Regions from separate parts of the Homo sapiens genome. Here all the other regions are reported to be linked to region 2. The links are microRNA targets in miRTarBase. Many come from high-throughput screens and were not tested one by one. Region 2 holds a microRNA gene; each other region holds the end of a gene's coding sequence. Distances are from middle to middle.
The links. Region 2 holds the annotated microRNA hsa-miR-513c-3p (UAAAUUUCACCUUUCUGAGAAGA, at 3,513-3,535, opposite strand). A microRNA usually pairs through its seed, bases 2 to 8, with sites in the 3' UTR of a target mRNA and lowers its output. Matches are read on the target gene's strand: a 7mer-m8 pairs with bases 2 to 8, a 7mer-A1 pairs with bases 2 to 7 and ends in A, and an 8mer does both.

Region 1 (11,225 bases), not on the chromosome of region 2:
CTAATGACAAAAATAATATATGCTCATAATAGAACATTTTAAATGCAAATAAAACAAAATAAATGTTAAAATTTAGTAATATTTATTAAATTTTCTCCAAGTGCACGAAATTACAAATGTAACAACCTAATTCCCTAGTGGCCTAATAACCCTATTTCCCAGACCTCTTCTCATTACAAGGAAAAACTCATATGCAGATAGTTCTAAAGGTATGAAGTGAAAAGATAAAGATTTTTCTTCCTTGCTGCATCCTCACCCCATCAGCATTATTCCCCAGGGTAACTACTATTAATAGATAGTAATTCTACCCAAAGGAAAAAATCATATGCATATAACAGCATCATATGTATACCTTTCTAGTAACTTACAAAACAAATGATAATATCATATCCTTTCTTATGTGTATTGCTCTTTTCACTAAATGTATCTGTGATATGTGTCTATATCAGCTGATTGTCCTTTTTGATGGCTGAATAATATTCCATCTTGTCCACGTGATAGTATTACTTGACAAGCTCCCTGCTGATGGACATTTGTCTTTGTTACTATGATAGTAATATAATCAACATTTATATATGTTTTGTATGTATCTATAATACACATGCACATACACATGCATATTTCTGCAGGGATAGCCATAGTAAATAACTAGTAACGGTATTGCAAGTTAAAGGAACAATCTCATTGCTTGAAATTTTAAATTTTGAAATACACTGCCAATTTTCATGGTCTCTCCTTGTAAGCTAGTTTGGGCTTTCTCACAGCATGACAGGCTCAGGGCAGTCAGACCATCCTGGCCAAAGAGCAGAGTGCCACAGACCACAACTGCTTCTAATCAGCCATCTTCCCAAAGCCTTCTCTTTTTTCTATTAATAACTTTGTATGAGATTCCATCTTAATACTTTTCTGTTGTTTGGTCTTGTAAGAGCTTATTTTTCCTGAACCAGGAAGTGGTTCAGGGCGGTTTTTCTAACTTCACAGAGCTCCCTCTTCTGTTAGCTTTTGTGAAATGGTCAAAAACATAGCAGCCTGCCTTCTGAGTTCTCCATCCCACCCTGGTTGGGCCTTCTCTATCCTTGTCTGTGTTGTTTATATCCTGCTGAAGTGTGATTCCACTTGTGGCAGTTTCTCCTCTGTGTAGGATCAAAAGGGCTGTGACTGGTTGGTTTGAAAATTTCTTATACCCTAGACTATTCCAGTGCCTTTCAGAAGTTTCCAAGGCCCTCTCACACTAATCTATTATCATATTGGGCAAAACTCCTTGCAGTTTCAGCTACTATTCCCTGATTGACTTTTCAGTAAATCTATCTCTCAGTCTTTCAGTATCCAAAGAAGATTGGTTCTAGGACCACCATCCCGCTGCCTCCACAGATACCAAAATCAGAGGATGCTCAATTCCCTCTTATAAAACGTTGCAGTATTTGCATATAATCTGCACATGTATTTCTGTATATTTTAAATCATCCCTAGATTACTTATAATACCTGATACAATATAAATGCTAAATAGCTGTAACACTGTATCTTTAAAATTTACATTATTTTTTGTTGTTGTATTATTATTTTTATTGTATTTTTAAAAAATATTTTCCATCTACAGTCAGTAGAATCCACGGATACAGAACCTATGGATAGGAAGGACCAACTGTATCTTTTAGTGTTTTGAGGTTCTTGAATTCTCAGGTCGTTTGCTTTCCTTTGCTTTCTCCCAAGTCTTGTTTTACAATTTGCTTTAGTCATTCACTGAAACTTTAAAAAACATTAGAAAACCTCACAGTTTGTAAATCTTTTTCCCTATTATATATATCATAAGATAGGAGCTTAAATAAAGAGTTTTAGAAACTACTAAAATGTAAATGACATAGGAAAACTGAAAGGGAGAAGTGAAAGTGGGAAATTCCTCTGAATAGAGAGAGGACCATCTCATATAAATAGGCCATACCCATGGAGAAAGGACATTCTAACTGCAACCTTTCGAAGCCTTTGCTCTGGCACAACAGGTAGTAGGCGACACTGTTCGTGTTGTCAACATGACCAACAAGTGTCTCCTCCAAATTGCTCTCCTGTTGTGCTTCTCCACTACAGCTCTTTCCATGAGCTACAACTTGCTTGGATTCCTACAAAGAAGCAGCAATTTTCAGTGTCAGAAGCTCCTGTGGCAATTGAATGGGAGGCTTGAATACTGCCTCAAGGACAGGATGAACTTTGACATCCCTGAGGAGATTAAGCAGCTGCAGCAGTTCCAGAAGGAGGACGCCGCATTGACCATCTATGAGATGCTCCAGAACATCTTTGCTATTTTCAGACAAGATTCATCTAGCACTGGCTGGAATGAGACTATTGTTGAGAACCTCCTGGCTAATGTCTATCATCAGATAAACCATCTGAAGACAGTCCTGGAAGAAAAACTGGAGAAAGAAGATTTCACCAGGGGAAAACTCATGAGCAGTCTGCACCTGAAAAGATATTATGGGAGGATTCTGCATTACCTGAAGGCCAAGGAGTACAGTCACTGTGCCTGGACCATAGTCAGAGTGGAAATCCTAAGGAACTTTTACTTCATTAACAGACTTACAGGTTACCTCCGAAACTGAAGATCTCCTAGCCTGTGCCTCTGGGACTGGACAATTGCTTCAAGCATTCTTCAACCAGCAGATGCTGTTTAAGTGACTGATGGCTAATGTACTGCATATGAAAGGACACTAGAAGATTTTGAAATTTTTATTAAATTATGAGTTATTTTTATTTATTTAAATTTTATTTTGGAAAATAAATTATTTTTGGTGCAAAAGTCAACATGGCAGTTTTAATTTCGATTTGATTTATATAACCATCCATATTATAAAATTGCCAAGTACCTATTAGTTGTTCTTTTTAAAATATACCTGCAAAGTAGTATACTTTCTGGCCCCTGCCTTTAAGGAATTTAAAATTCAAGAAAGCCATGTGGAATATATAAGGTAAGAGACAATAAGGGGACCTGAACCTTATGGGGGAATAAATATGGCATGAACTGCTGTGGGATTAAAAGAGAAAAGGAAAGCTGGAGGGTCTGGAACTAAACCTGGGGTTCCCATTCCTCCTACTGTGTGCTCCAGATTCTCTCATCATAAAGTTAGAATTGAGCTGGCCATCAGGAATAGCCAGAGGAATATGTCAGCTTTTGTGTTCTCCCTAACCTTCCCACGTTATTTGGGGGATACTTTGCTCCTCGAAAGATTTTTAAATAATTATGTGCCCCCCACCATCCCTGCAAGCTTAAGGGTGAGAAGTCCCATTTACTTCCATGACACTATTAAGCAGCAATCTCTTTATTCTGCTCATCATGGGACAGCCAAGATGTGTGGGTATCTTAGGGGAGCTGTGGGTCCCTGTCTGCTGGCATGGCACAGGCATCAGAGGAAGAAGAACCTTTTTATACCCTAGCCATCTGGTTAGTTTTCTCCCTAGTTTTTCAAAAAACTAAGCCTGCTTCCAGTCCCCACTGCCTTGTTCATACAGAATTCCAGGAATGTCCTGTCCAGTTTTCTGTTGCTCTGCATTGCGGACGCCACATAGTTCCTAAAGCCAAATGAAAGAGGTGCAGCAGTTTAAGTCCAGTTTCAAACCAAGCAAAAAGCCAGGAAACATAGGAGAAAGGGAAGTTTAGGTGGGATAGAGAGGGCATTAATTTTTCCCAGGGCTTACACCGGGAAAAAAATCAAGCTTTTCTAGGAGCTCTTTGGGCACCTGGTCAGCATGGACTGACTGGTTAGGTTTTTGTCTTTGTACCAAAACTCGGGAACTTGGGTTATAGTGGCTATTACTGCCATTAGCAGTTGCTGTTTACTGAGAAATTCTAATGAAATAGGCACTGTGCTGAGATCCCACATAGATAATCGGATTTAATCTTCTCCACAAGCACCCCTCAGGTAGGCACAAGTACATTATTGCCATTTTACAGGAGAGGAAACTAAATCTCAAAGAAATTTAGTAACTGCCCATGGTCACATAATGATTTCATTCAGTCTCTAGTGAATGGAGATTTTAAAAAGAAGTTCAAAGAGAAGCATCATAAAAGTCTTTATTTGTATCTAGGCATTTTTTCCTAGAGCAGTAAAGAAATCTGAATTCCTTTTAAAAGAAGCAGCTTTCAGGAGAAGTAATCTGTTCATTAAGAGTTCCAGAGAAGCTACTATTGTGTAGACAATGAACTCAGGGCTCCCCCTTCCAGTTCAAAGTGGATAACACACACACGGGCTATGCAAACAAGAAATGTCATCATGGGGGGCCTGCTGCCATTGACTCAAACCAGTCAAGCCCCCCTCAAGCTTCATCCTTCCCCCAGCTCTCCACCCCTGCTCTGCCAAAAGCCCTTCTGTAGCCGAACTCCTCTTTTTCCTGGAGTCAAGGACAAGATCAGCAAGTAGCAATGCGGAGTCCAGGCAGTGTCTAGAGCAGCCAAGAGGAAACTAAAGAAATCTCTCTCAGCAATGGGCCCCTATTGTCCACTGCTTTCTCTGAGCTGAACTGCTAAACTGGCCCAGAAACTGGCAAGTTCTTGAAAAGACCTGCTCTACCTCCGTGTTGGGGCAAGAATGACAGGAGAGAGGCCACTTCTGCAGAATTAGAAATACTGTATCACAGCTTAGCATGTCAACCCATCCAGAATGCCAAAAATAAGTCCATAACCAGTAGAAGATAAGTAACAATTAAAATTAATTCCAATAAAAATGAAGGCAACTAGCCCAAAGGTGCACATTTGCATGTGCTGAACCGATGACTAGGCATGAGGAATAAAGTAAAATAATAATATTACTTTGGCTGGCACCAGAATAAGGTCTTAAGGAAAACACTCTTTGTTTAGAAAAATATCTAATGAGTCTGTAGAAAAATATCTAATGAGGCTTCACTCAATATCTAGTGAGATTTTGAGGTTATGGGTGTGGCAACGGAAAAGACAGTAAAATATCAATAGCATGTTTTGTGTGTCAGCTTTTAAGGAGAAAGGAGACAGACAGAAATCCCCCAAAGCTCTGGAACTGTGACACTACGTGGAACAAGTCAGACAATGAAAATTTTGCTGGTGGGAATGAAAAAAGAATTTTCCAAACAGCGTAGCTCATGTGCAGCATGAAATTGTGTGCGCTGATGTATTGAAACTCTGTCCGACATCATCTCCAAAACTTCAATAAAAATGGCTACCACAAAAAGTCCTCTGCGTAAAACCTCTGTGTACAAATCATAGAAAGTGCCCGGTCTCATGTTTGAACAAACATGGGGTGGCCAGATCTTCATAGATGAACCAAATTAGAAGAAACAGGAGGCAAAACAATGACAACACAGCCACCTTCCCCCTTCCCATATCACACCTTAGGAATCCACAAAGCTGGATTAGGAGATGGAACTGTCTTATCTAGCTCTTGAACAGTAAGAAGGCACTGGTGAACATCTGGGTTACATACAAATATATGAATTTTGCTTAAATATATGAACATGCAGATGCAGGGCAATATCAGCACACATTTGTATAGTCTTTTTTGCAGTCAACAAAGGTGTTATTTAGGCATTTTAGGTGGCATTAAACACGTTCAAGTATTCAGATAACATCTGATCAGGAACTTATTCATAAAATACTCTTAAGAAAATGAAAAGAACATGCCACAGACTGGGAGAAAGTATTTGCAAATCACATATCTGATAGAAGACTCATCTCCAGAATATACTTTTTAAAATCTCTGAAAACTCAATAATAACAAAACCACTAATAAAACAATAAAATACATAATAAATAAAATAATAAAAATGGATAATATATTGGAACAGATGCTTCATCAAAGAAGACATGCAAATAGCAAATTAGTATATTAACATGGTAAAATCTTTCTCAAGGATTGTTGGTGGTGTAGGTCAGATAATGAATGTGAAATGATTTGGTCCCAGGGGAGCCCTTTCCATCATGGGGACCTGCCATAGCTTCTGTCCTTTCTGAGCAAAGTTCACCAGCCCTCTTGGCCAAGCTCTATTTCTGATGCATGAGAGGTCTGCCAAGCACAGACTGTGGGGGCCCTCATCAACATGGATTTCTTCTTGACGGGTTTGGCTGTGGGAAACACAGAGAGAGCCAGCATCTGGTAATAGAGTCAGAAGATGAATGTCACCCAGAGCCATACCTTGTTGACTGCAGACATTTTCTCTAAACACATTGCACTGGTGCTTGCTGAGCCTAAAAAATGAACTGTTTTATGAGTCCTTTTGTTCTCAACATTAATTGTTGCTTTTTAAACATTAGTTTAATTGCCTAAAATTTACTAGGATAGTTTAAGACAAACTCAAAAATTGGACTAGTAGTGCCAGCACAAAATTATACTCTCCTAATTTAGTAGGATCCATTTAACCATTTAACTCGTTAATTGACCTGATGGAGAGTACTCCAAAAACATGTTCACATCATAGTTATCACCAAATCAGACAATTATGTTTCAGTTATTATTCTGTTTTGACATTCATGTAGAGGGTGTTCCTAGAAAACCTATAACGCATTATTCAAATTATATCCCCCAACAATTAGCCTACGAATTTTTAAAAAAATGGAGCCCACTTCAAAGGACTCTCTTAAGAGGATTAAAAGACAGGTCACAGACTGAGAGAATATATTTGCAAGTCACCTCTCTGATAAAGAAGTTGTATTGATATGTAAAGAATTCTCAAGATTCAGTGATAAGAAAGCAAATAACCCACTAAAAGACAAACAGAAGATTTCAACACATATTTCAGGAAAGAAGGTACAGAGATGGCAAACAAGACAGGAAAGGACCAATAACGTTAACCTTTAATGTAATGCAAATTAAACAACAATAAGACACTGCTACATACTTATTAGAATGGCTGAAGTTAAAAGGACTCACCATATCAAGGATTGGCAAAGATGTGGAGCAACTAGAACTTTCAAAAAGTGGTCCAATGACTTTGGAAAACCATTTTTGCAGTTTTTAAAAAAGGTAATCATATACCTACCACATGATCCAACCAGTCGACTCCCTAGTACTTATCCAAGAGAAAAGAAAGGATTCTTTTCTGTGTATAAACATTCATATACACAGACTTGTATATGAATGTTTGTGGGAGCTTTGTTTGTCCATCACAAATGGATGATTAAAGAAATTGTAGTATATCCATACAATGGAATATTATTCAACAATAAAAAGGAATGAATCATTGATACACACAATAACATGGATGAATCTCCAAAAAAATTATGCTGAATACAAAAGGGCCAGGCACAGTGGCTATGCCTATAATCCCAGCACTTTGGAAGGCTGAGGCAGGCAGATCCCCTGAGGTCAGGAGTTCAAGACCAGCCTGGACAACATGGTGAAACCCCATCTCTGTAAAAATACAAAAATTAGAGGGCAGGATAGCGATTGCCTGTAATCCGAGCTATTCGGGAGGCCAAGGCGGGAGAGTCACTTGAACCCAGGAGGCGGAGGTTGTAGTGAGCGGAGATTGTACCAATGCACTCCAGCCTGGGTGACAGGGCGAGACTCCATCTCAAAAAAAAAAAGAAAAGAAAAGAGACCAAAAAGGAATAAATTTTGTATTGGCCTATTTCTATAAAACTCTAGAAAGGAAAATTAATCTATAATGACAGAAAGCAGATTAGTGGTTACCTGGGGGTGGGGGCAGTAGTACTGAGGAGTGAGATGGAGGGAGAGATTACAAAGCAACACAAAGAAACTTTTGAGAGCGCAAGGACATTTTCACTATCTTGACTGTGTTGATGGTTTCAGGGGTGTATATACATGTTAAAACTTATCACAGTGTCCACTTTAAATATGTACAGTTTATTACATGTCATTGTACTTCACTGAAACCTCTCGAAAAATAAAAAAGTATAAATTTACTGAAAAATAAATAAAATGGAGCCAAAGCATCTTGTTGTGTTCCCTTGTTAAACTCAACATACATTGTTTGATGTCTTAAGATCTCTTTTATAAGACTCCAAGATGAGATTAAATCAACAGGCTCTTAGAAATAAAAAATTATCTTACAGTCTAAGTTCATTGTCAGTTAGAGGTTAGATTGTTAAAAGTTTTTACTTATGGCACATTTGCAATACTCCATATTTTAAATGATAGTCCAAGAAGTGGATCACGATCCCTGCGTGCTAAAACTATGGGGGGAAAAGCCAAGAGCACTTCACACATTGCATATCTGCACCAAGTGCAATACAAGTTACATATTACAAATTCCAGTGCTTAAGGAAATGATTTTTCCCATTTTCATATTGTGGCAAAATATACATAAAATGTAGCATTTAAACCTTTTTTAAGTTACATTTTAAGTTCTGTAACATTAAGTACATTCATATTGTCGTGCAACCATCACCACTATTCATCTCCAGAACTCTTTCATCTTTTTCATTTGCAACTCTGAAGCCATTAAACACCAACTCTTCATTTGTCCTTCTCCAAGCCCCTGGTAACCACCATTCTACTTTCTGTCTCTATGAATTTGACTACTCTTGGTACCTCATATGACTAATTATATAAACTTTGTCCTTTCGTGACTGGCTTATTCTTCTTAGTATAATATAATGTCTTCAGGTTTCATCTATGTTGTTGCATGTTTCTGAATTTCTTTCTGTTTTAAGGCTGTGTGTGTTTGTGTGTGTGTACCACATTTAGTTTATTCATTGGTCCATTGATGCATACTTAGTGTGCTTCCTTTTTTTGGCTATTGTGAATAATGCTGCTATGAATATGGGTATACAAATATCTATTCATGTCCCAGCTTTTACTTCTTGGGCTATATACCCAGATATAAAATTGCTGAATCATGCAGTAATTCCATATTTAATTTCATGAGAAATCATCAAGGCAACTATTTTTAACTTGTGTCTTCATAATGGAAATATTTGCAATGATAGTACAATGCAAACACAACAATAACAGCTACATTTCTTAAGGACTTACTTTCTGCAAGGGATCTGCTGAGGATGAACTAGCTAGCTAGCTAGCTAGCTCGATAGATGATAGTTAGAGAGATGGATGGATGGATGGATAGATAGATAGATAGATAGATAGATAGATAGATAGATAGATAGACAGACCATCTTATTTAATCATCCAGAGAACATCTATGAGGTAAGTATTGTTCTCTCCTTTTTATACATAAGAAAACTGAGGCTCAGTAAGGTTAAGTAACTTGACCAAATCCACAGTAGGTAAAGAACAGAGACATATTTGGAACCAGGGACTATACTCTTAACTACCTGTAATCATCTACTACCACCCAAAATGCTATTTTTACCCAACTACATAGCACAAATATTGCAATTTAGAGAAGGAACAAGAAGCTCTACTGCCCGGCAGCTCATGCACAGCACAACTCCTGGTTTTGCTCCAAGTGGGTGCACTAACGTCCAGTGGCCTGTGGGGATCTTTTGCAGAAAGGACTGCTGTCCTCACTCAAGCAGTTGGTCTCCTTCCATCCCCATGCAGAAGGGAACTCTCTCTCTCTTCCTTTTTCTAAAGAGAATAGCAGGAAATTCCCATTTGCTCCTTTGCCAGACTCTACGGAGAATATTTTCTCCAAAGGTTTTTGTAAGCAACTGTCTGAATCATGAGTCATCGTTTTTCCCTTGGCAAGGCTGCATTTCCTTCTCTTGAGCACTACATTTTTATCCATGTACTAGCAAGACAGCCCTGTGTGCAGTTTCCCTCTCAAGTCTGACACAAGCTGATTTTGTTATCTCACAGGAATGCTTAAAAACTAAAATGGCTTACATTACTTAATGGAAATACACAGCAAATTTCTCTTTCCTTTCACTTTTTAATTTCTTGGCTCATTTTCTTTTTATGAAAGTCCAGAGGTAAAACAAATAACTTTCAAAGCAGAAAATGATTTACTAATCTAGAAATGCATGAATTGAAAGTCTGTGCATTGAAAGTACAAAGTTTTTTTTTTTTTTTTTTTTTTTTTTTTAAGTTTCCTATACTCTGATGGCAAAAACACAGGGCATGAAATAATACAAACCTGAGAGCTACTGTGGGTTCTGCCACTTTGTACCAGTATGGTCTTGGGCAAGTTAAATAAATTAGAAACAATCATACCCCAAACTCTTCAAGATTTCTATGAGAAATAAATGCAAAAAATGGGATGTATGACTTGGTCCAACACAGGGCCTTGTAAATACCACGGGATCTCACTTACATGTAAAATCTAAAAATGTTAATCCCATGGAAACAGAGCATGGAATGATGGTTGCCAGAGCTGGGACAGTTGGGATGGGCAGGAGAGGGCTGGGGAGATGTTGGTCAAAAAATACAAAATTACAGTTACATAGGAGGAATAAGTTCAAAGGATCTATTGTACAGCATGGTGATTGTTAATGATAATATATTGTATTCTTGAAAAATGCTAAGGGAATGGGTGTTAAGTGTTTTCACCACAAAAAATAATAACTATGTGAGATAATGCACTTGTTAGCTAGATTTAACCATTTCACAATGTATGTATAGTTCAAAACCCCATGTTGTATGCAATAAATACATGCCATTTTTATCTGTCAATTTAAAAAATAAATTAAAATAATAAAATGCCATAGAAATATTCAAGGGTTATTAAAATAACTTCTTCCATTATATTTGTTATAAGCCTTATAAATAGTTTAAAGCATGATATATTTTATATTTGGCGAACTGGCTTTAGACCAATTGGTGTCTATCAGGCATATGTGGCACCTTAGCATCTATTAAGGAAGAGTAGGCCACACAAGGGAGGAAAGCAATATTCAATACAGCTTCCTCCCCTCCAGGCTGCAACGGGATCTCTCCTAAACTCCAATATACCTTTGAGTTCCATGGATTATTTTCCTACTATAAGCCACACCCCTGAAATAATAAATGTGGTATGCATGAAAAATTCATTTTCTTTCTGTTTATCTAAATTTGTTCTTATTTCTTATGGTTTAATTGTGTTTATTAAGTCGCAAGTGCTCAACCTCCCTGGGTTATATTATAATACTTTCTGTAATAGTTGACAAGGAAGGGTTCATTTTCAAATTGCTTCATTCAAAACCCTTGACTTCATCTCAGGCTCCCATTGGCTTGGCAGGTATGTATAAAGAAGGAAGTGGGAGAGGTAAATAACCCTCCATTGCATCTACTACCTGTGTAGGACTTGTCCAGAAAAACTCCTGGCATATACTATCAATAAATGGTAGCTTTTTTTCTTCTTTGCAGG
Region 2 (11,225 bases):
AAAACATTCATGATGCATTATTTGAAATCATTTATAAGAAAATGGCACAAAATTGTTGACCCCATCCTAAAACCTAAGTATAAATACAGATAAATGTGTGGAAAGATCCACATCTAAATTTTATCAAACACTGTATCCACATTATGATGTTACTGGAATTATTTCATTACTGCTATTCATGTTTTTCACACCTTGTATGTGCTTTCCACATTGTTCTGTAATAAATAGGAATTATCCTCATGGTCTGAAAAAGAAATACATCAATAAAAATGTAGTTTTCTTTGGCAGAATTCTGATATAAGAATAACTCGGACAGGTGTAAAAGTTGTTTTTGGCAGTTATTTTTCCTCTTTTGAGCTTCCTGAATCTATACATACTCAGCCTGTTCAGTTAGAGTTCTTGCCTTTCCATGTTCCTGACTCCTAAGCTGAACACATTTTAATTTATTATATATTATGAGGATAAACTAATATATTCACATTAACGAGGTGACGAAATTATAGTATAGCAAGGAAGGTCCAGAATGAATACGTAAACATTAAACCAGGGTTTTTCATGTGCTAGGACTACAACACAGATCAAAACAGCTTCAACACATGCTAACAGAACTGACATTTTAAAACACAGATAATTTTTACAAAGTAACTAGTAAAATACTTAGTATACACAGGAGTGCTAAATTATATGTAGTTATTTATGCTGGATATATGTTATATGTAATTCAATAATGTGATAAATATTTTTATTCTGTAATTTGCCTTTTTATTATCTCAGTGGTCTTATTTGAAGACGTCTTAATTTTTTCAAAGTCTATTTTATCAATTTATTTTTAATAAATTTTATTTTTATATTTTGATATCATATGTAATAATTTAATGGTCAAAAATATTTTCTCTCATTTTTTTCATGCAATTTGATAGTTTGACGTTTTGGCTTAAGATTGTGTTAATTTCTGTATGTGGTTTGAAATACGATCAAGGTTCATATTTTTTATATATCTCACATTTCCCAGCATCTTACTGTTTAAATACTATCATTTCTTCATTAGATTGACTTTACAGCTTAGTCAAAATGAATTGGTGACATATATGGATATTTCTGGTCCTTCTATTTGTCCATCCTTTCTTCAGTACCACAGTACATTGGGTAATCTAATTAGACAGTAAATCTGGAAATTACAAGTGTAAATTTTCCAGCTTTGTGATTCTCTTTCAGATTGTTTTGGATATTCTAGTTTATTCGCCTTTTATATCAGTTTTAGAATCATCTTGCTAATGTCTACAAATATTTTTCTGGGACATTGGTTGGAATTGTATTACTTCTAGAGATTAATGGAAGTCTAAAAGTCTATAGATTTGAATCCTTCAATCCATAAATATGATAGTCCTCGCCACTTAATTAGTATTTTTTTTTAGTATATTTACAGTTTTAGCATACAGATGTTTTGGGGTTTCTATTGATACTGTAATAAATTGCCACAGATTTAGTTGTTTACAACAACACAAATTTATTATATTAGAGTCTAAAGGTCAAAAATCTAAATTAGGTTTCTCTTGGCTAAAATGAAGGCATTGGCAGGGCTTTGTTCCTTCTGTTGGCTCTAGAGGAGAATCTACTTGATTGTCTTTAGAAGATTCTAGTTACTTTCTCCATTCTTTGGCTCATGGCCTTTACCTCTACCTCTAGTCAATACTATAGTATTTTGCAATGTTTCTCATTCTAACCACCTTTCTCCAACGTATAAGGGCCCTTGTGATAATGTTGGGCTCACCTAGATAATCTAGGATAATCCCAATCTCAAAATATTTAATAACATCTACAAATTTTCTTCTACAATAAAATATGATGCTTACGAGTTCAGGGGTTACATTGTGAACATTGTTTGGGCGGGGGCTGTTACTCTGCCTACCACAGAGATCTTGTAATTTTTTCTTAGAGTTTCAAATAAATATTTTATGTTCATATTTTATTTTTCAATTAGCTTGATTTAATCATTGCATAATGTACACATATATCAAAACGTCATGTTGTACACCTTAAATATGATTTTTATGTCAGTTAAACCTTAATAAATTGGAAGAAAAAAGGCTGAGTAATACAAAACAGTATTTCACTGAAAAAAAACACAAATACCAGTAAATATACTATTCTTTTGAGAAATCATAACAGAGGTATGATAACAACTAAATTCTCTTTTATTTCATTTTAAGATATCACTTAAAGTTATATAAGTAAACATGCATCACTATAATACAGTTTTAGAAATTATATACTAAAAACAGTTATCACTTTGGAAAATTCTATGTACATACAGTATTGCAAAGTGACAAAATTTTTTTACTGTTCAGAATGTTGCCCCCACCCCAAAAAGATTGTATGTATTCTATTATTACAATGTTTTTCATTATGGAAAAGATACTTCAACTGTTTTTTTTACTTTCAGACATTAATGGTCTTATACATATTCATACATTCTGAATCTAAAAAAACATAAACCAAAATCCTGCCTGTAACCATATAGTAATTGTTTTTTATAGTTTTTCCCTTTCGGTGTTTATGCTGTAGCCTCTGTTTCAGTTGGAATCAAAATTGTATTAATCACTTACTATTTATAACATTTTTTACACATTTCCACAATATAAATAGCTTATTTATAACCTACTTCCCAAACATGTATACTAGATTAATGCTGCAGATGGCCTTACATAGTCTGGTGCTTGTCTTTCTCTTGCATGTTCTCTCTCTCTCTCTCTCCTCTCTCTCTCTCTCTCTCTCTCTCTGTGTGTGTGTGTGTGTGTGTGTGTGTGTGTGTGTGTGTGTGTTTATTTCCCTCTATTTCTCTCCATTAGGTTAAGAGTTAAGCGTCACCAAAAGAAAATGGGGAGAGAAGCCTAGGAGATATCTCTTGAGTATCAATTCTGTCATACCCTTCCATTCTTCAAATATACTCTTAAAAAATGGGGAAAAAAGATAATTAAAAAGGGTGAAATATTCTTGGGTGGACTATGCTTAACCCTTCATAAATTGGTGACTGAAGGCTTTGAAAGGTATTTTAACAGTCAATGAGAAAATGTTTTAGTCTTTGACAGAAAATGGACACTGTGGATCAGCAATGAAGGGACCTGAGAGGCAGGAGAGCCTTTTGGGAGCACTAAAGGACAATCCTTGCAAATGATGACTAGTTGATCAGTGAAAAGAGTTTAGAGAATTGAGGAATCTGGAGTAAAATGTCTCAGCTGACGAAGAATGGCTGTGGCCTCTATACAACGTATTTCTTATTTGAGCCAAGCCTCATTTGGCAAAAGTAGATAAATTCTTAAGGAACCAAAGTGCATGCGTTTTCTCAGGAGTCCACAGTTCTTATGTGTAGTCGTCTAGAAGGCACAAAAAGTTCCTTGAAGTAGCCCAGCACTGAGGAGTGGGTGCACAGGATGCAAAACAGGCATCACCATGCTCGCAGCTACAGCCCCATCCCTAGGGACACCACATATGCAGTGCATGCTGTACATTACTCTTCTCAGAAAGGTGAAATTTATATTTTAGTTCACATAAACGACACCTCCTTGAGAAAGGCACTGTACGCTGAATGGCTGAATGTGGCATCCCAGACCAAATGTTCCCTATTCATGCCGTTTTTATTCAAGTCCCTATAGGTGTATGCCTTCGCATGGCCACCAAGATTTATGCCAAGTAACAATGCAACTTCTAGCCCCTAGCACTCCCCTTTTCACCCTGCCCTGAGTGAGATATTAACATGCAGATTTTTGTTTTGTTTTGAGACGGAATCTGGCCCAGACTGGCATGCATTGGCGTGATCTTGGCTCACTGCAACCTCCGCCTCCCGGGTTCAGGTGATTCTGCCTCAGCCTCCTGAGTAGCTGGGATTAAAGCTGTGCACCACCATGAACAGCTAATTAACACGCCGATTTTTAGGCTGAGCAATGATAGAGCTTTTCACTTCTCCTCTTTTTCAGAGGTGAGTTATCCTTGTCTGAATTATCCCATTGGTTTTCCTGTAATTTTGCTTGTCTCATTAAAAATCCTCAAAGTCTTTGCTATTGTGAATAATGCCGCAATAAACATACGTGTGCATGTGTCTTTATAGCAGCATGATTTATAGTCATTTGGGTTATATACCCAGTAATGGGATGGCTGGGTCAAATGGTATTTCTAGTTCTAGATCCCTGAGGAATCGCCACACTGACTTCCACAATGGTTGAAACCAACCCAAATGTCCAACAATGATAGACTGGATTAAGAAAATGTGGCACATATACACCATGGAATACTATGCAGCCATAAAAAATGATGAGTTCATGTCCTTTGTAGGGACATGGATGAAATTGGAAATCATTCTCAGTAAACTATCGCAAGAACAAAAAACCAAACACTGCATATTCTCACTCATAGGTGGGAATTGAACAATGAGATCACATGGACACAGGAAGGGGAATATCACACTCTGGGGACCGTGGTGGGGTGGGGGGAGGGGGGAGGGATAGCATTGGGAGATATACCTAATGCTAGATGACGAGTTAGTGGGTGCAGCGCACCAGCATGGCACATGTATACATATGTAACTAACCTGCACAATGTGCACATGTACCCTAAAACTTAAAGTGTAATAAAAAAAAAAAAATCCTCAAAGTCAGGCTAGGCTCGGTGGCTCACTCCTGTAATCCCAGCAATTTGGGAGGCCAAGGTGGGCAGATCATCTGAGGTTAGGAGTTCGAGACCATCCTGGACAACGTGGGAAAACTCCCATCTCTACTACAAATACAAAAGATTAGCCCGGCGTAGTGGTGGGCGCCGGTAATCCCAGCTACTCTGGAGGCTGAGGCAGAAGAATCACTTGAACCCAAGAGGCAAAGGTTGTAGTGAGCCAAGGTTGCACCTTTGCACTCCAGCCTGGGCAACAAGAGTGAAAATCTGTCTCAAAAAAATCTTCAGACTCAGCCGGGCATGGTGGCTCATGCCTGAATTCCCAGCTCTTAGGGTGGCCCAGGTGGGGAGATCACTTGAAGCCAGAAGTTTGAGACAATCCTGACCAACATGGTCAAACAAACATGGTAAAACACCATCTCTACTAGAAATACAAAAGTAGCCAGGTGTAGTGGCTTGCACCTGTAATCACAGCTACTCTAAGCTGAGGCAGGAGAATCACTTGAACCAGGAAGGCAGAGGTTGCAGTGAGCAGAGATGGTGCCAATGTACTCTAGCCTGGGTTACAGAGCGAGACCCTGTCTCAAAAAAACAAAAACAAAAAACCCTTAAAATTACAGTTAAGTACAAAGGACCAACCACTCACTAAAGCTTTCTGTTGTCCTAAAACTCCAGCTGTGCTGCACAGACCTAAATTCCAACAGAAAAACCACAGAATACAACCACCTGGATGCAGAGAAGTGCAGAAGAGTCAGAGAAAACTAGGTTAGAGAGAGCAGAAATTTAATTTCTTCTTCAGGCTATGCAGGGGGAAGAATCCATAGAAATTAATACGAGAGAGAGACGAGACAGATAATGGGCTGGAAGACAGGAAATGCTATTCTATTTCTCTTAGCTCCATGGTTCTTTATCGTTCATTTATTGGGGTGCTCTCTCTGTGTGTGTGTGTGTGTGGGCGGGGTGGTGTTATTAATAATTAATAAGATTTTTTAGCTTTAATATTTAGTGTTTGCATTAATATATTTTCCATCTTTTTACTTTTACCCAACTTTCACATAGGTCTTCATATTTAAAATGGGTTTGTTTGACATAGTATATTAGTGGTTTCTTATTTTTATGTAATTTGACAATCTCTGTCTTAATAGAAGCATTTATATCATTTATATTAATACAATTATTTATATATGTGCATTTAAATCTACCGGTTTTCTAGTTGTTTTCTATGTTTCATCCTTTTCTAATTCCTATTTTCCTGTTTTTCTGCCTGATGGCAGACTCAGTATTTTTATCATTCAGTTATATTTTCTGCACTCTTATTAGTTGGTCACTTAAAAAAAGATAGTGGTTGCTCTGGAGTTTCCAGTGTCCATATTTAATTCATCACAGTCTATCTTCAAAGAATATGATCCTACTTTTTGTATAGTTTAAAAATCTTATGATGGTATACTTACAATTCACCCCATCCTTTGTAATATATATGTTAATTACTTTCATTAATGTTCTAATTCCCACATACATATTTATTCACACTGTTATCTGTTACTGACTGATTGAAAATAATAAAATAACCCCTGTATGAACCCCAAAAATTTGAGGACAGGTCTCAGTTAATTTAGAAAGTTAATTTTTCCAAGGTTGAAGATGCACACCTGTGATCCAGCCTCAGGAGGTCCTGATGGCATGTGCCCGAGGTGATCAGAGCGCAGTTTGGTTTTATATATTTTAGGGAGTAATGAGACAGCGATAAAAATATGTAAAATGAACGTTGGTTTGGTCTGGTCCAAAAAGGTGGGAAAACTCGAAGTAAAAGTGGGACAACTCAAAGTAGGGAGGAGGCTTCCAGGTCACAAGTAGGTGAGAGACAAACGGTTGCATTCTTCTGACTTACTAACCTTTCCAAAGGAGGTACTCAGATACACATTTATCTCAGTGAGCAGAGGGGTGACTATGAGTAAAATGGGAAGCAGGTTTGTCCTAAGCCGTTCCCAGCTTGAATTTTCCCTTTAACTTAGTGATTTTGGGGCCCGAGATATTTCTGTTTCACATCCATATCGTCATCTTCATCATTTTCTGGGTTTTTAGTTTGTTCGTGTAGATTAGATTCATGTTTCTGCCCGGTATTTCTTTCTGCCTGAGGAAATGTGTTAACATGTCATGTAATGCATTTCTACTGGGGTGAATAATCTAAATTTTCTTTGTCTGAAAAAAATTGTCATTTGTGTTTATTATAGAGATAATGTGAGTCCATCAAAATCAGTATTTATCTCTCAAAATTGTTTGCTTTTTTCTAACTGTAAATTTCTAAGAAATTTACACTTCCTATCTCTGTGCTAAAATTCCTCATTTGCTCATCCATGATGTCTACTTTTTCCAATAGTGATGTGGTTTGGATCTGTGCTCCTGCCTAAACCTCATGTTGAATTATAATCCCTAATGTTGGAGGTGGGGCCTGGTGGGAGTTGTTTGGATCATGGGGGTGAAATTCTCATGAATGGTCTAGCACCATCCCTTTGGTGCTGTTCTCATGATCGTGAGTTCTCACGAGGTCTGGTTGTTAAAACGTGTGTAGCACCTCCCCAGCCTCTCTCTTCCTCCTGTTCTAGCCATGTGAGGTGCTAGCTCCTCCTTTGAATCTGCCATGGTTGAAAGTTTCCTGAGGCCTCCCAGCCATGCTTCCTGTACAGCCTAAAGAAGCATGAGCCAAATAAAGATACCTAAAAATGTGGAAACAGCTTTTGCATTGGGTAACAGGCAGAAGTTGAAACAGTTTGGAGGGCTCGGAGGGAGACAGGAAGATGAAGGAAAAGTTGAAATTTCCTAAAGAATTGTTAAATGGCAGTCATTAAATTGCTGATAGTGATATGGACACTAAAGGCCAGGCTGAGGAGGTCTCAGATGGAAATGAGGAACTTATGGGGAAGTGGAGTAAAGGTCACCTTTGTTATGGATTAGCAAAGAAACTAGTGGAATTGTGCCCCTGCCCTAGGGATCTGTGGAACTTTGAGAGTCATGATTTAGGGTTTCTGGTAGAAGAAATTTCTAAGCAGTATGGCATTCAAGATGGGGCCTGGTTCCTTCTAATAACCTATGCTCATGTGTGTCAACAAAAAAAGATAGAAAACTGGCACTTACTTACTTATATTTAAAAGGAAAGCAGAGTGTAAAGCTTTTGAAAATTTGCAGCCTGGCCAAATGGTAGAAAATAAAAACCCATTTTCTGGGGAGGAATTCAAGCCAGCTGCAGAAATCTCCTGAAGTTACAAGGAGCTGAATGTTAATAGCCAAGACAATGGGGAGGCCTGAAAGGCATTTCAGACACCTCTGCAGTAACCCCTCCTCCCATCACGGTCTGAGAGGTTTGGAGGGGAGAATGCTTTCGTGGGCCACACCCAGGGTCCCACTGCCCTGTGCAATGTCTGGACACTGCTTCCGATAGCCTGGGTGCTCCAGTGTCAGCCTCTGCCCAAAGGGCGCCCAATACAGCTTGAGCCACTGGTTCAGAGTGTGCAAACCATGAGCCTTGGTGGTTTCCACTTGGTGTTAAGCCTGTGGGTGCCCAGAGCAAGAGTTGAGTCTTGGGAGCCTTGGCCTAGATTTCAAAGGATGTATAAAAAAGCATGGATGTCCAGGCAGAAGCCTGCTGCAGGGGTGGAGTCCTCATGGAGAACCTTTACTAGGGCAGTTCAGAGGGGAAATGTGGGGTTGGAGCCCCCATGCAGAGTCCACAATGAAGTACTGCCTAGTGGAGCTGTGAGAAGAGGGCCACCATCCTCCAGACCCCAGAATGGTAGATCCACTGACAGCTTGTAATAGGGCCTGGAAAAAGCGTAGGTACTCAATGCCAGCCCATTGGGGGTTGAACCCTTCAAAGTCACAGGGTTTGAGCTACCCAAGGCTTTGGGAGCACTCCCCTTCTGCCAGTGTGCCCTGGATGTGGGACATGAATTGAAGGAGATTATTTTGGAGCTTTAAGATTTAATGACTTCCTTGCTGGGTTTCAGATTTGCGCAGGACCTGTAGCCCCTTTCTTTTGGCTGTTTTCTCCCAAGTATTTACCCAATGCTTATACCTCCATTGTATCTTAGAAGAAGTTAACTTGTTTTTTATTTTACAGGCCCATAGGCGGAAGGAATTAGCCTTGTCTCAGATGAGACTTTGTACTGTGGACTTTTGAGTTAATGCTTCAGTGAGTTAAGACTTTGGGGGAATGCTGGGATTGTAGTTTGCAAAGTGAGAAGGACATAAGATTTTGGAGAGGGAAGGGCAGTATTATAAGGTTTGGATCTGTGTCCCCACCACAATCTCAGGTTGAACTCTAATCTCCAGTGTTGGAGGTGGGGCCTGGTGGGAGGTGATTGGATCATGGAGGTGGAATTCTGGTGGAAATAAATAGCAAAAAAGCCCACTATTTAAAATGGAATATTGTAGTAAATCTGAGAGAAACTAGACAAGACTTAGAAAACATTTAAAATATTTAAAATGCTATAAAAGCAATTCAGAAATCAATCAGAAAAAAAATTGTATGATAGAATGAAACATGGCATCTAAAATGATTTTTCAAAATTATTTACCTGGTAACTCAATGTTTTTATAAAATATTCATGATGCATTACAAAATTGTGGACCCCAACCTGAAACCTAAGTAAGTGTAAATATAGATAGATGTGTGGAAAGATCTACATCTAAATTTTATCAACAACTGTATCCATATTATATGATGTTACTGGTATTATGGTATTATTTCATTACTGCTATTCAAGTTTTTCATACCTTTTATGTGTTTTCCAAGTTGTTCTGCAATAAACAGGAATTGTGCTCGTGGTCCAAAAAGGAAAGATATCAATAAAAATGTAGTTTTCTTTGACAGAATTCGGATATAAGAATAACTTGGAAAAATGTAGAATTTGTTTTTGGCAGTTACTTTCCCTCTTTCGAGCTCCCTAAATCTATATATACTCAGCCTATTCAGTTAGAGTTCTTGCCTTTCCATGTTCCTGACTCCTAACTCTAATAAATGTTGTTAACGCATTATAAATTATGAGGATAAACTAATATATTCACATTAATGATGTGACAAAATTATAGTATAGCAAGGAAGGTCCAGAATGAATACGTAGCCATTAAACCAGGTTTTTTTCATGTGCTAGGACTACAACACAGATCAAAACAGCCTCATAGAACTGACATTTTATTGAAAAACACAGATACTTTTTAAAAAGTAACTAGTAAAATTCTTGGTATACACAGGAGTGTTAAATTATATGTAGTTATTTATGCTGGATATATGTTATTTATCACATTATTAAATTACATATATTTTTAGTATTCTGTAGATTGCCTTTTTATTATCTCAGTGGTCTGATTTGAAGACAAATTTTAATTTTTTCAAAGTCTATTTTATCAACTTATTTTTAATTTTACTTTTATATTTTGATATCATATATAATAATTGATAGGATGCCTATGGTATATTATCGGGGGAAAAAAGTTACTGAAAGGTAAAGAAGATTAAAAATAAATATCTATATAAATAAAAAAATATATATATATTCTGCCTTTTATTCATAAAATTTTATACTTGGACATTTTGGCCTAAAATTGTGTTATTTTCCGTATATGGTTTGAAATATGGATCGAGGTTCATATTTTTCATATATATATATATATATATCACATTTTCCAGTATCTTGTTTAAATACTATCATTTCTTCATTAGACTGACTTTACAGCTTAGTCTAAATGAATTGGTGACATATATGTATATTTCTGGTCCTTCTATTTGTCCATCCTTTCTTCAGTACCACACTATATTGGCTAATCTAGTTAGACAGTAAATCTGGAAATTACAAGTGTAAATTCTCCAACTTTGTGATTCTCTTTCAGACTCTTTTGGATATTCTAGTTTATTTGCCTTTTATATCAGTTTTAGAATCATCATGGTAATGTCTACAAATATTTTTCTGCGACATTGGTTGGAATTGCATTACCTCTAGAGATCAATAGAACTCTATAAGTCTATAGATTTGAATCCTTCGATCCATAAATATGATACTCCTCTCCACTTAATTAGGAATTATTTGATTTCCTAGTGTATTTACACTTTTAGCATACAGATGTGTTTGGTTTTCTATTGATACTGAATCAAATTGCCACAAATTTAGTTGTTTCCAACAACACAAATTTATTATATTAGGGTCTAAAGGTCAGAAATCTAAATTAGGTTTCTCTTGGCTAAAATGAAGGCATTGGCAGGGCTTTGTTCCTTCTGTTGGCTCTAGAGGAGAATCTACTTGATTGTCTTTAGAAGAAGATGCTACTTGCTTTCTCCGTTCTTTGGCTCATGGACTTTACCTCCACCTCTAGTCAATACTATAGCCTTTTCCAATGTTTCTCTTATTCTAACCGCCTTTCTCCTACTTATAAGGACCCTTGTGATAATGTTGGGCTCACCTAGATAATCTAGGATAATCCCAATCTCAAAATATTTAATTTAATCACATGCACAAATTTTCTTCTGCAATAAAATGTGTTGTTTACAAGTTCAGGGGTTACTCTGTAAACAT
Region 3 (11,225 bases), 130 Mb from region 2:
AAGTTGGAGTCTAGTGCTTACCTGTTGGGAGTACATGTCAGAGTCCCCGGGCAGCCTTTTCAGACTCTCTCTACTCCATCTTGATGTCCCCCTGCCTCCCCAACCACTCCCTAGATTCCAGTGTTATCCTTTAGGAGCAGAGATAGAATTGGGGGTATAATTGGCAGGGATATTTGGTCAGACAGGTTATTTTGATGATACCATCCTGATCTCCACTCCCTTTGAGAACCATGGCACTGTTAAGTTGTGACTTGACCTTCTTCATTGACATCGTATAAACCCCAGAAGCCTGAGCCACTGTAGGTAATAAGTTAACAGGGAAAGAACTGTGGTGACGGTTTGTCAGCATATAGTAAAGGGGCTAATTGGGATTTTTTTGGTAACCACATTTTTCTTTTGGTTAAAGTAATAGTACAGCATCTGTATTTTTTTTAATTCTATGGTGATTTATAATACACTTTTAGAAAAAAGTAAATCCTTGCCTATAATGGATTGTCATCGCTAACATTCTCTTCATAATAGTAAATTGTTATTTTATCACTTAAAACTATAAGTAGATTAATTGACCTGAAATAAAGCTGGACAAAAAAGTCAGTTTGTAGTTACTCTTTTAACCCTATGACATTTTAATTCATTTCAACTCCTCCTTCTTAGTTTAACTGTGCTATTTAGGAAATCGATCATGAAATTAATTTGGAGTTCATGCTGTAAACATACTTCTTCAATTGCAATTCACCAGTCTCAGCATAATTCTCAACATAATTCTGATTAAAATGTTTGTATTCAGAATGTCCTCAGGGTAAAAGAGCTCGATGAAAACATGCCGTACCTTTCAAGGGCTGTTGACCTGTACAACATGCACTGCATGTTATAACTTCCTTGAGTTCAAAAGGAGACGGTTTAAAGGTCTAATATATGAGACTAAGCACAAGTAATACTCAAATTACAAAATATGAATGTTGGCCCATTTGATGTGTTCTGAACAAGTATGTTTAAAGATCTTCGTTTTTTGATATTTTAGAGCTTAGTACTTAGCAGTGTTTTAAAAAGCAAGCCACCTACTTGCTCAGCAAAAAACGTTATTTCATTTGCCAGCATTTGACCTATACTATCTACTGAAATTTCCCCCATCTCTTTATCTTCTTTTATTTGAAATCCATGAAATGCTTCTGCATGTCCTCACCATCCATGCTCAGCAACATGTACAGCCTCATGTGGCTGTTGAAAGAGGAGGCTCTGTGTTCCCAGAAGTATGCTAGATTGTAGCTCTCTGCTTGTGGTTGATGTCTGCCAGATGCCGGTGAGAGCATCTCAGCTTAGTCAAGGAATCTTCAAAGGCAAATCCTGCTTCAGTACTGCTGAAGTCACTGCTGAATTAAATATTGACCCTACAGTGGTGACCCCAAAAGCTGTTCAGACTTTGCGGGACTTTGGAATTCTAGTAGTTGGCTAAAATTGATGGTGACTCCCTAGGGGAGAGGAACTGTGGCTTATTCTTTGTATCACACAGCCTCTAGCCCGGTGTCTTGCCCAGAATAAGTACCCAATAAGTTTTGAATCAAATGGCAATAATTATCGTGATTAAGTTCATTAAGGATATCATTACTATGACAACAACAACAAAACACAAGCAACTTTTGTTTGTATTTGTTTATAAAATGTTCCTGCAGGATCGGGTCATTGTTTATCATGGGACAGGTGATGGGGTGATGGGTGAAAGTGCTCACACTTGGCTTCTCTCCCTCCAGGTATATGACCGGGTATCAGTGGAAGCTGTGTTGCCAATGGACAAACGACTGGACAGACTTATTTCTCACTGCGGCCCAGTAACAGGCTACATCTTTGCTTTGTTGGCAGTTTTCAACTTCCTCTTCCTCATTTTCTTGAGATGGATGACTCCAGATTCTATCATTGATGTTGCAATAGATGCCACTGGGCCACGGGGTGCCTGGACTAATAACTATTCTCACAGTAAAAGAGGGGGTGAGAATAATGAGATATCTGAAACCAGGTAGAAGGAAGCCTAGATTGTAAGATTTTAAACATTTGTAATAGTTCTATAAAGACTATGGAAAATAACCTTGCTTTTGGGGGGTTTTTGTTTTTTTAGAGTTAATTTAGTAAGTTATGCTACCTCTATATCATTCAATATTTTCTGTTGAGGAAAGATAAAAATGTATGCAATTCCTGAGTGTAGAAACTTCTTGCACTTATTTAAAATTTAGGAGAGAACATTTAAGCCACTCAGGTATGCAATTTTTCAGACTACTGAAATCCCTGTAGCAGAGATGTTTTAACATTATATTTTGAGAGCTTTGGGTGCTGAAGGGCCAAACGTTTTCTGGGCATTTTTTGGCCAGTTTTTAATGTAACACCATTAGACACTCACCAGATGTTTACAAGTTTTCTTTAGGGGAACTACAACAATTATATGAACTGTTTTATATCATGTTCATATACATTTATTAGGAATCTAAATCATGTCTTTGAACATTTATTAGGTTCACTCAGTAGGTGTTACATGTAATTAACAGGTTCCTTGAGTAAGATAGTCCATCAGTTACCAGCACATTTTGAACCCCTGCTCTGTGTAGAATGTTGAACTAGATGCTTCCCGCCATTAAGGACCAGGGGTGCATTCACTCTTTGTTTACCATTCAAATGGCTTACTTCATCATAATTGTGGTTGATATGAGATCAATATCCAACATGCCAAAAATGCTCATGCCAGTTAATGCCAGGAAAAAAATCACCGACACACTACTAGTACTTTGTTCCTGTTGTATGCATTCTCCTAGGTAGAGCCTCCATCTTCAGTTGTGTTTGTGAAGGTATTTTTTGCTTTTTAAATACTGGGGACCGATATCACTGTTGATAGTGCAGAGAAACCCTCCACATTTTTCAGTGCATAATTGAGTTTTCTATAAATGCCTTCGTGTTTTCTGAGCAGAATGTACGAGGTGTGCCATCCCAAAACCAGCTGCTACCCTGTCCTTTTAATGTAAGTCACTCCCCTTCACTGTGGCCTCGCTGATGTCTGATAAGTATTGTCAGTGTGCAAAAGGCTTTACTTCAGAATGGTTTATTTATAGCAAACTAAGTTGAAAATTTTAGAAACAGTCTTTGTGGGTGGATGTTATTAACTGTCATTGTTGTTGCCCAGAGCCATGGGTTTTTTAACCCCAAATTATCCACATGGTGTGTATTATGAATTCTTTGAACTCTTAAGGTTTTTGTGAGAAAAGGACTGTGAATTCAAAACAATAAGGCACTTGTGGGTGCACTACATAGATTCTGACAGTGTTGTGATTCTGTATAGGATTTTTAAAAATGACAACATTCACAAAATTTATTACTTTTTAAAAAATAACATGCCTATTAACTGGTTGCACTGATATAAAAGAAATATATTTGTGTTTTGTTTGTACTAAAATGCAAAAGCAAGAGTGCAATTTTTAAAATCTAGAAGTTAGGGGTTTTGTTGGAGAAAAATGGACTGATCTTTAAACTATTCAGTCTTACTGGGATTTTTATGCATAGAAACTCACATATAAACATGAAATAAACAGTGCCAGTATTCATAGGAAAGTGAGAAACTGTAATATTTGGCCATTATTCTATTCAACAGGTTTTAGAGGCATGCCACCATTTTTTCCTTATATTTTTGCTTAATTTTTTTAAATTGTCATTTAATTCTTAAACTGTCATTTATTTGAGATGGAAATAAGATCTAAAGTTAGTTGCCTTTGCCTGTAAAACATGTGATTTGCAAATTATTATTTTTCTTTTTTTTAACAAATGGAAGTAAATTTGTTTCACGTAAATCTTAATTTTCAACCTTTCTGGATACCTTAATTGTAACTGTCAGTTTGCACTGGTCGGTATATGGAAACACATTGCTCTACCCTGCTACTTAGTTGATTTTAAAGTGAATTTACAGTGATGAGAAATTTGTGAAAAATATATTGTATTTCTTTTGATGTTTCAAAAGGTTGCCTATGAAAAACTGATTTGTTAAAACATGCTACATGTCCAAAAATAAAGACCAGAATGACATTTTGATAATTTTCTGAGTTTGTCTTATTTTATGAACAGACTATTATTTACTAGTGGAACAGGCTATCCCTGCCCCCGACACATTCTTTTTCAGTGCAATTTGGATGTGTTGCTTGGTCTATTAGTAAAACAAGAAATACCCTTTGGGCGATGAATTACTCTGTCATTTTTTGTTTCTAGAATATCTTCTCTCTCTCACTCATGGAATAGCGAGTTCAATTGTGCCTTTGTTTCCTTACCCAAATAAGCCCTTGTTTTTCATTGCCCTAGCATTATCACGTGAGACAAGGAAAATATCTACAAACTATACTGTGTATGTGAGCTACATAATTATGCTTTCTACTTTGCCCAACACAAATTTGTAAACTTTCTTAAAACATTATGAGACTTGTGATTTTCTTTCTTTCTTTCTTTCTTTTTTTTTTAGCTCATCAGCTATTAGGGTATTTTCATTTATTTATTTATATATTTTTGAGACGGAGTTTCGCTCTTGTTGCCCAGGCTGGAGTGCAGTGGCACGATCTTGGCTCACTGCAACCTCCGCCTCCCGGGTTCAAATGATTCTCCCGCCTCAACCTCCTGAGTAGCTGGGATTACGGGCGCCCACCACCACACTGGCTAACTTTAGTATTTTTTAGTAGAGATGGGGTTTCACCATTTTGGCCGGGCTGATCTCGAACTCCTGATCTCATGATCTGCTGTTAGTGTATTTTATGTGTGGCCCAAGACAAATCTTCCAGCGTGGCCCAGGGAAGCCAAAAGATTGGACATCCCTGATTTAGTTTCTCCCACTCCTTTTGTGGGAAGCAGTGGAAAGCAGTCACCTATGTTTATGTTTTGATTTATCTTATGCCAAAACTTATTTTTGGCAAAGTCAGGGTAGTATAGGTCTGTGTTTACTTTTGTGAAGTAATTTTAAAGCCTCTTTATCCATCTCTGCATTCCCAAATGGATGTGGCTAGATGTTGAATTGTATCATCCTGTGGCTGGATTTTTTAATATAAAATTATGAAAAAGTTCTATGTAGAATTTGATTTGTAGCCTTTAGTACTTGGGGGAACTGATTTTTATCCTTTATCATTTCTATTTGGGTATGGCTCAGTGGTTCTCAACTAGGGCTTGGGGGGACAGTTTTGTTTCCCAGGGGACATCTGGCAATGTCTGGTTGTTACTACTAGGTGGGGTGGGGCATTGGCATCAAGTGAGTAGAGGTCAGGGTTGCTGCTAAGCATTCCGCGATGCTCTGGGCCATCCCCCACAACACATGTATCTGTCCCAAAATGTCAATAGTGCTGAGGCTGAGAAACCTTGGTGCTGTTGATGATTTCATCTGTGAAAGATAGCATGAATCAACTGTCCTTATGTATCAGTAGCCTTTTATGCCCATCACAAATGTAATGTTCAAATATAGTAAAGATGGTCTTGCCGGGCATGGTGGCTCACGCCTGTAATCCCAGCACTTTGGGAGGCCGAGGTGGGCGGATCACGAGGTCAGGATATCGAGACCATCCCGGCTAACACGGTGAAACCCCGTGTCTACTAAAAATACAAAAAATTAGCTGGGCGTGGTGGCGAGCACCTGTAGTCCCAGCTACTTGGGAGGCTGAGGCAGGAGAATGGCGTGAACCCGGGAGGCGGAGCTTGCAGTGAGCCGAGATTGCGCCACTGCACTCCAGCCTAGGAGTCAGAGTGAGACTCCGTCTCAAAAAAAAAAAAAAAAAAAAAAGATGGCCTCTCAGAAATAGTATAGACACCCATTTGAACCTTAATAAAGTTGAGCTTTTCATGGCCAACTTTTTTGGCGTGTAAAACATAGGACAGCCATGTTTTAAATGAAAAGACCAAAACAAGATTGAATAATGTTATAGAACAATGTACATCACTGGTCTGACATGACTAAATGATTGCCTACTTAGAGTATAATTGAAGAAAGATAAATGAAAAGGACTAAAAGAGTTGTATTCATGTATTTTCATACACTGGCATTCTACCAGGTAATATAAGCTCAGTAAAGTAAATCTTATGTTAATGTCTGTTCCTTGAGAGTTAAGACGACTCAAGGTCTTTATAGTGCTCTGATACACTGAAATCGATGAGCTGTATGTTGTGACTCAAGATTGTATTCTTACATGTCAGCTTTTTAATGTAGTGAAACAGTTCTTAACCAGGCAGTCATTCTAATTTGCCTGCATGCTAGGAGAAATTCCCATATTTTTGCATAAATCATTTGTTAAGATTTATTAGGCCACTTGTATAACTATATTTTGGCTTGTCTTTTCAATTGATTTTTAAAATTTACAAAATCGAACATAGCCAAGAATGAAGGCAGAGACCTAGAGTGATGAGGAAAACTAAAAATAAACCCATTTCACTTGTGTTGGCCAGCTGATAAGAGAAAATTGCCCAACTAGAGAAGGTTGATTCATGAAATATTTGGGTACTTCATCCAGAACCTAGGGCATCTCTTTTGTCCATTTCACTATGACTCTTCCATGATCAAGGATAGCCCACATTTTTCAGAAATGGGCACCACCTTTACCAATGCTTGAAATGCAAGTGAATGATCAGGAGGGAACCTTGCCATGGGACCTTGTCCCAGATGGAACTACCATGGCGAGTAGTCTGATGCTTCTAGTGTGACACTTACTTGGAGAGGCATCCAAGATAGGCCTTTTATTAAATACAGGCTTGGCCGGGTGCAGTGGCTCACACCTGTAATCCTAGCACTTTGGGAGGCCAAAGTGGGTGGATCACCTGAGGTCAGGGGTTCGAGACCAGCCTGGCCAACATGGCGAAACCTCGTCTCTACTAAAAATACGAAAATTATCCAGGCGTGGTGACGCATGCCTGTAATCCCAGCTTCTTGGGAGGCTGAGGCAGGAGAATCGCTTGAACCCAGGAGGCAGAGGTTGCAGTGAGCCGCGATCGCACCATTGCACTCCAGCCTGGGCAACAGAGTAAGACTCCATCTTAAAACTAAATACATACATACGTGCATACATGCATACATACATACATACAGCTTTAGGGTAAATTGTCTTTTTTTTTTTTTTTTTTGAGACAGAATCTTGCTCTTGTCACCCAGGCTGGAGTGCAGTGGCGCGATCTCGGCTCACTGCAACCTCCGCCTCCCAGGTTCAAGCAATTCTCCTGCCTCAGCCTCCTGAGTAGCTGGGATTACAGGCACCTGCCACCACGCCCAGCTAATTTTTGTACTTTTAGTAGAGACGGGGGTTTCGCCATGTTGGCCAGGCTGGTCGCAAACTCCTGACCTCAGGTGATCCGCCTGCTTCAGCCTCCCAAAGTGCTGGGATTACAGGAGTCAACCACCGCGCCCGGCCAGGTAAATGGTCTTTTTTAACTGGTCATATTTTAGATTTGGATTTAATCCTCTATAAACTTCAGAATTAAGAGAAAATGAAATGCTCCAGGGAGTAGTATTTCCCACTTAGAACATACAGCATATTTGCACTTCTTTTGTATGTCAAATAACTTGCTTTGTTTCTGTGGAAGCCAAGAAGTTTCTATCTTTCCAACCCTGCTTTCTAACATAAAATAGGAAAAATAGGGGTTTAGGAATATAAAATGTTTGGATATGAATCTTATCTGTTAGATAGTACTGAGTTATGTAGTTCTAGAACTATTGGATGTTTCTGGTTAGAAGGAAGTTTCTTTAGTTTATTTAACACTGCTGTGGAGTCAGCACATGCAGTCGCCAAATCAGTTAGATTAGAACCTACAGAGATCTCGGTAACAGGAGCACTGAGTGCTAGAAGGTTTAAAATAGATGTCATATGATACCAATTATAACTCAGTGAAATTTTACAGTCCTAGGACCCTATACAGAGCATAAGCCAAAATGGAAGATGGTCCTGTTTTCTATGGCTTTAAAAACATTTTTATTACAATGTTTGCTACGTTTTTTTTCTTTAAGCTTTTAATTAAAGTTTTTTTGGCTCTCCTAACCCATTTCTATATCGTCAAAGGAAATAGAAAAGAAGCGGCTAGGATAGCAGAAGAGATCTATGGTGGAATTTCAGGTAAAAGTACATGAATTTGTTCCTAATATTTAAAGAAAATCCCTCCTAGATAATTCATATGACTAGTATTTCTGGAAGGCAGATTATATTTATACTTTGATTTTAAGTGGGTAGTTTGAAAAATTGTCACTTAAAGTAGCAAATGCTGTTGGCTGCATCAATTTGTGGAGGATTTTCAGCTTTATTTTTTGCAAGTTCGTAGATCTTGTAGCAGTTGTTATTTAAGAAGTAAATAGGTAGTGGCTTACTAAGAGTATTTTGAGAAACTTCATTTCTACTAGCCAAAGTAATTACTTGTATATAATTATTTTCTTTAATATTTTAAAGCAAACTTTAACAATGAAGGGCATTCTAACCAGACTAAATTCTCTCAGGAAATAGAATGACTAATAAATTATAATTAAAGCAGCAAACGTGGCAAGCTATGTGTATTTTTTTTGCTGTCATTTGCAACTGGAATTGATTAACCACTTGTCACTGTCAGGAAAAGCTCTTCACTAAACCCATTTTATATGGTAGCATGCAAAGCACTCCAAACAAAGTTTATTCTAACATGAAATGCCAAGATTTGGGCAAAACATTTTAAATTCTCATGCTTTGTAGAGAATAGTGTCCATTTCTTTCAAGAAATGATTTACTTTAATTGTGGTGAGATGCTACAAAAGTAAATGAGTCAGATATCCCTGTCACTCCTGGGATTGTCACTTAATAGAGGAGTATTTATTCATAAACAGAGTTCAGAATTTCCCCGTGTATTTTTAGTGTTTGCAGGGGTTCCAGGATTACATCATTCTTTATCTAGTATCCATTTCAATTTGCATCCAGGATTCTCTTTCAAAATAGTCTTATGTGATTCCAATACACTAGACAACTCAGAAGACACTAGACAACAGCAGTCTTATCTAAAGAAATAAGACCTCCAAGGACGAAGCATCAGAATGCTTCAATTAACTGGGGAAAATGAGAAGAATTGTGAAGTTTCAGAACGTATCAGAAGGTCCGGACCATGGAAAGAGATTTCTTTTGGGGATTATATTTGTCACACATTTCAGGGAGGTATGTTACTTTGACTAGTTACAAAAAAAAAAAAAAAAAGTAATGCTTCTGATAAGTTTCAAGTTAAGCATGATCTGAAAAGTTATCTTCTAATTTAATTTGTCAATTTGGGCAAGGGCTTTCTAAAATTTTCAATAATAGTTTTGGTGTTCTCATAGATAAATCATTCTTCTGGTCTAAATTAGATGAAGTCCAACAAAGTCAATATTGGCAAGAACATGTTACAAATGTTTTCTCCTGTTGCACCTGCGCATTATTTCTGTCTTTGTGGTCTTTAATTAAGTGCACTCTTTTTTTTTTTTTTTTTTTTTGAGATGGAGTCTCGCTCTGTAGCCTAGGCTGGAGTGCAGTGGCACCATCTCGGCTCACTGCAACCTCCGCCTCCCAGGTCCCGGTTGAAGCAATTCTCCTGTCTTAGCCTCCTGAGTAGCTGGGATTACAGGCACACGCCACCATGCCCAGCTAATTTTTTTGTATTTTTAGTAGAGACAGGGTTTCACCATGTTGGCCAGGCTGGTCTTGAACTCCTGACCTCATGATCCGCCCGCCTCGGCCTCGCAAAGTGCTGGGATTACAGGCGTGAGCCACCGCGCCCGGCCTCAAGTGCACTCTTAAAAAAGGTATAAAACCTCCTTATAGTCAAAACCCATGTAAGCATGGTTTGAATTTAATCTGGAGCTGGAATACAAATCTCTTAAATACAGTTCGTTCATTCTGTAGTGCAAATATCTTTACTTGTTCAATCTCTTAAAATAGGTTAATTTGCAAGTAGCATAGTATTCTAAGGTCAAAAACATTTTTCAATTATTGTTAAAGAGGCAGGGAATGGTGCATGTTAATTTCCCAGTTTTATTTCTTTCATATATATATGTATATGTGTGTGTGTGTGTGTATACATATACACGAATCCCCCCACCCCCAAATTTACCAAGATTTGGTAAATAAGACTTTCTGTTTTTTTGTTTGTTTTGAGATGGATTCTTGCTCTGTCACCCAGGCTGGAGTTCAGTGGCACGATCTTAGCTCAGTGCAACCTCCTCCTCTGGGGTTCAAGCAATTCTCGTGCCTCAGCCTCCTGAGTAGCTGGGATTATAGGCGCACGCCACCACGCCCGGCTAATTTTTGTATTTTTAGTAGAGATGGGGTTTCGCTATGTTGGCCAGGCTGGTCTCGAACTCCTGACCTCAAGTGATCTGCCCACCTTGGCCTCCCAAAGTGCTGGGATTATAGGTGTGAGCACCTGTGCCTGGCCGCTAAATAAGTCTTTCTATAAGAATGTAGGCAGTAACATGCCTGGACCAGTATTTTTCACATGGTTCTGTGTTTTTCTTTTGATACCACTGTTAACAGTCAGATACTATATTATTACAAATCTTCCCCCGCCCCACAAAATACTTAAAAAATAACAACTCTTTATTCAAAACCCAGTCCTTTAAATATTAATGCAACTAGGCCAATACACCTAAACAATAAATCCTCCTCAACCCCTCAGTCTCTCTAATTCCTAAATTATCCCATAACAATATATTTAGGTGTATTAAAAATCAAGAACAAAATTTTGTGGAAGTGTTAAACTCAAACCAGAAATCAAACTCAAACCAGAAATCACCTTTGCTTTTGGTCACTTTTGCACTGGTCAGACAAATGTTTGTTGGGAAAATATATGACATTTAATCAGTAAATTAGCTAATTGACTTACAAAAGTCCCAGCCCAAGGTTAAGTTTCTTGAGTCTGCTAGCATATGCTATTCCTGTAAACTATTGTCAGCAATGTCAAAAGCAAGGAAGGGCAGGAAAAACCTAGCCAGCACACAGGTTAGACTTTTGTAGGTCCAGAGCACTCTTTTTTTTTTTTTTTTTTGGAAGCTGCATTTAACACCACATGCCTCATTAAATATCATTCTTTGTGCTGTAAAACCTTTTGGAAAGTTGTTTTTTTTTTTTTTTTTTTGTGCAGTGGGCGGGTGGGGGTGGATTTCATAGTCTGGAATACATTATTTTATATGTCTTTGTGGCTTAAACTATTACATTTGCTGATCACTCATCATAGTTGAATTAAGCCATGGTTGACTG

Region 1: miRTarBase lists IFNB1 as a target of hsa-miR-513c-3p. Seed matches in the 3' UTR shown: 7mer-m8 at 2,714-2,720.
Region 3: the mRNA of PIGA is a reported target of hsa-miR-513c-3p. Seed matches in the 3' UTR shown: 7mer-A1 at 2,218-2,224, 7mer-A1 at 3,346-3,352 and 7mer-m8 at 3,947-3,953.

What each region holds. Positions count from the first base shown.
Region 1 is chr9:21,068,674-21,079,898 of GRCh38, reverse strand. IFNB1 (interferon beta 1) reads left to right here and starts at 1,957. Exons shown (of 1, transcript NM_002176.4): 1 at 1,957-2,795. The coding sequence starts at 2,030. The coding sequence ends at 2,593.
Region 2 is chrX:147,186,205-147,197,429 of GRCh38, forward strand. MIR513C (microRNA 513c) reads right to left here and starts at 3,583; the gene lies at 3,500-3,583. The region is part of intron 1 of LOC105373347 (periphilin-1); the gene reads left to right.
Region 3 is chrX:15,312,296-15,323,520 of GRCh38, reverse strand. PIGA (phosphatidylinositol glycan anchor biosynthesis class A) reads left to right here. Exons shown (of 6, transcript NM_002641.4): 6 at 1,749-4,065. The coding sequence ends at 2,015. ASB11 (ankyrin repeat and SOCS box containing 11) reads left to right here and starts at 7,881. Exons shown (of 7, transcript NM_080873.3): 1 at 7,881-8,096. The coding sequence starts at 7,916.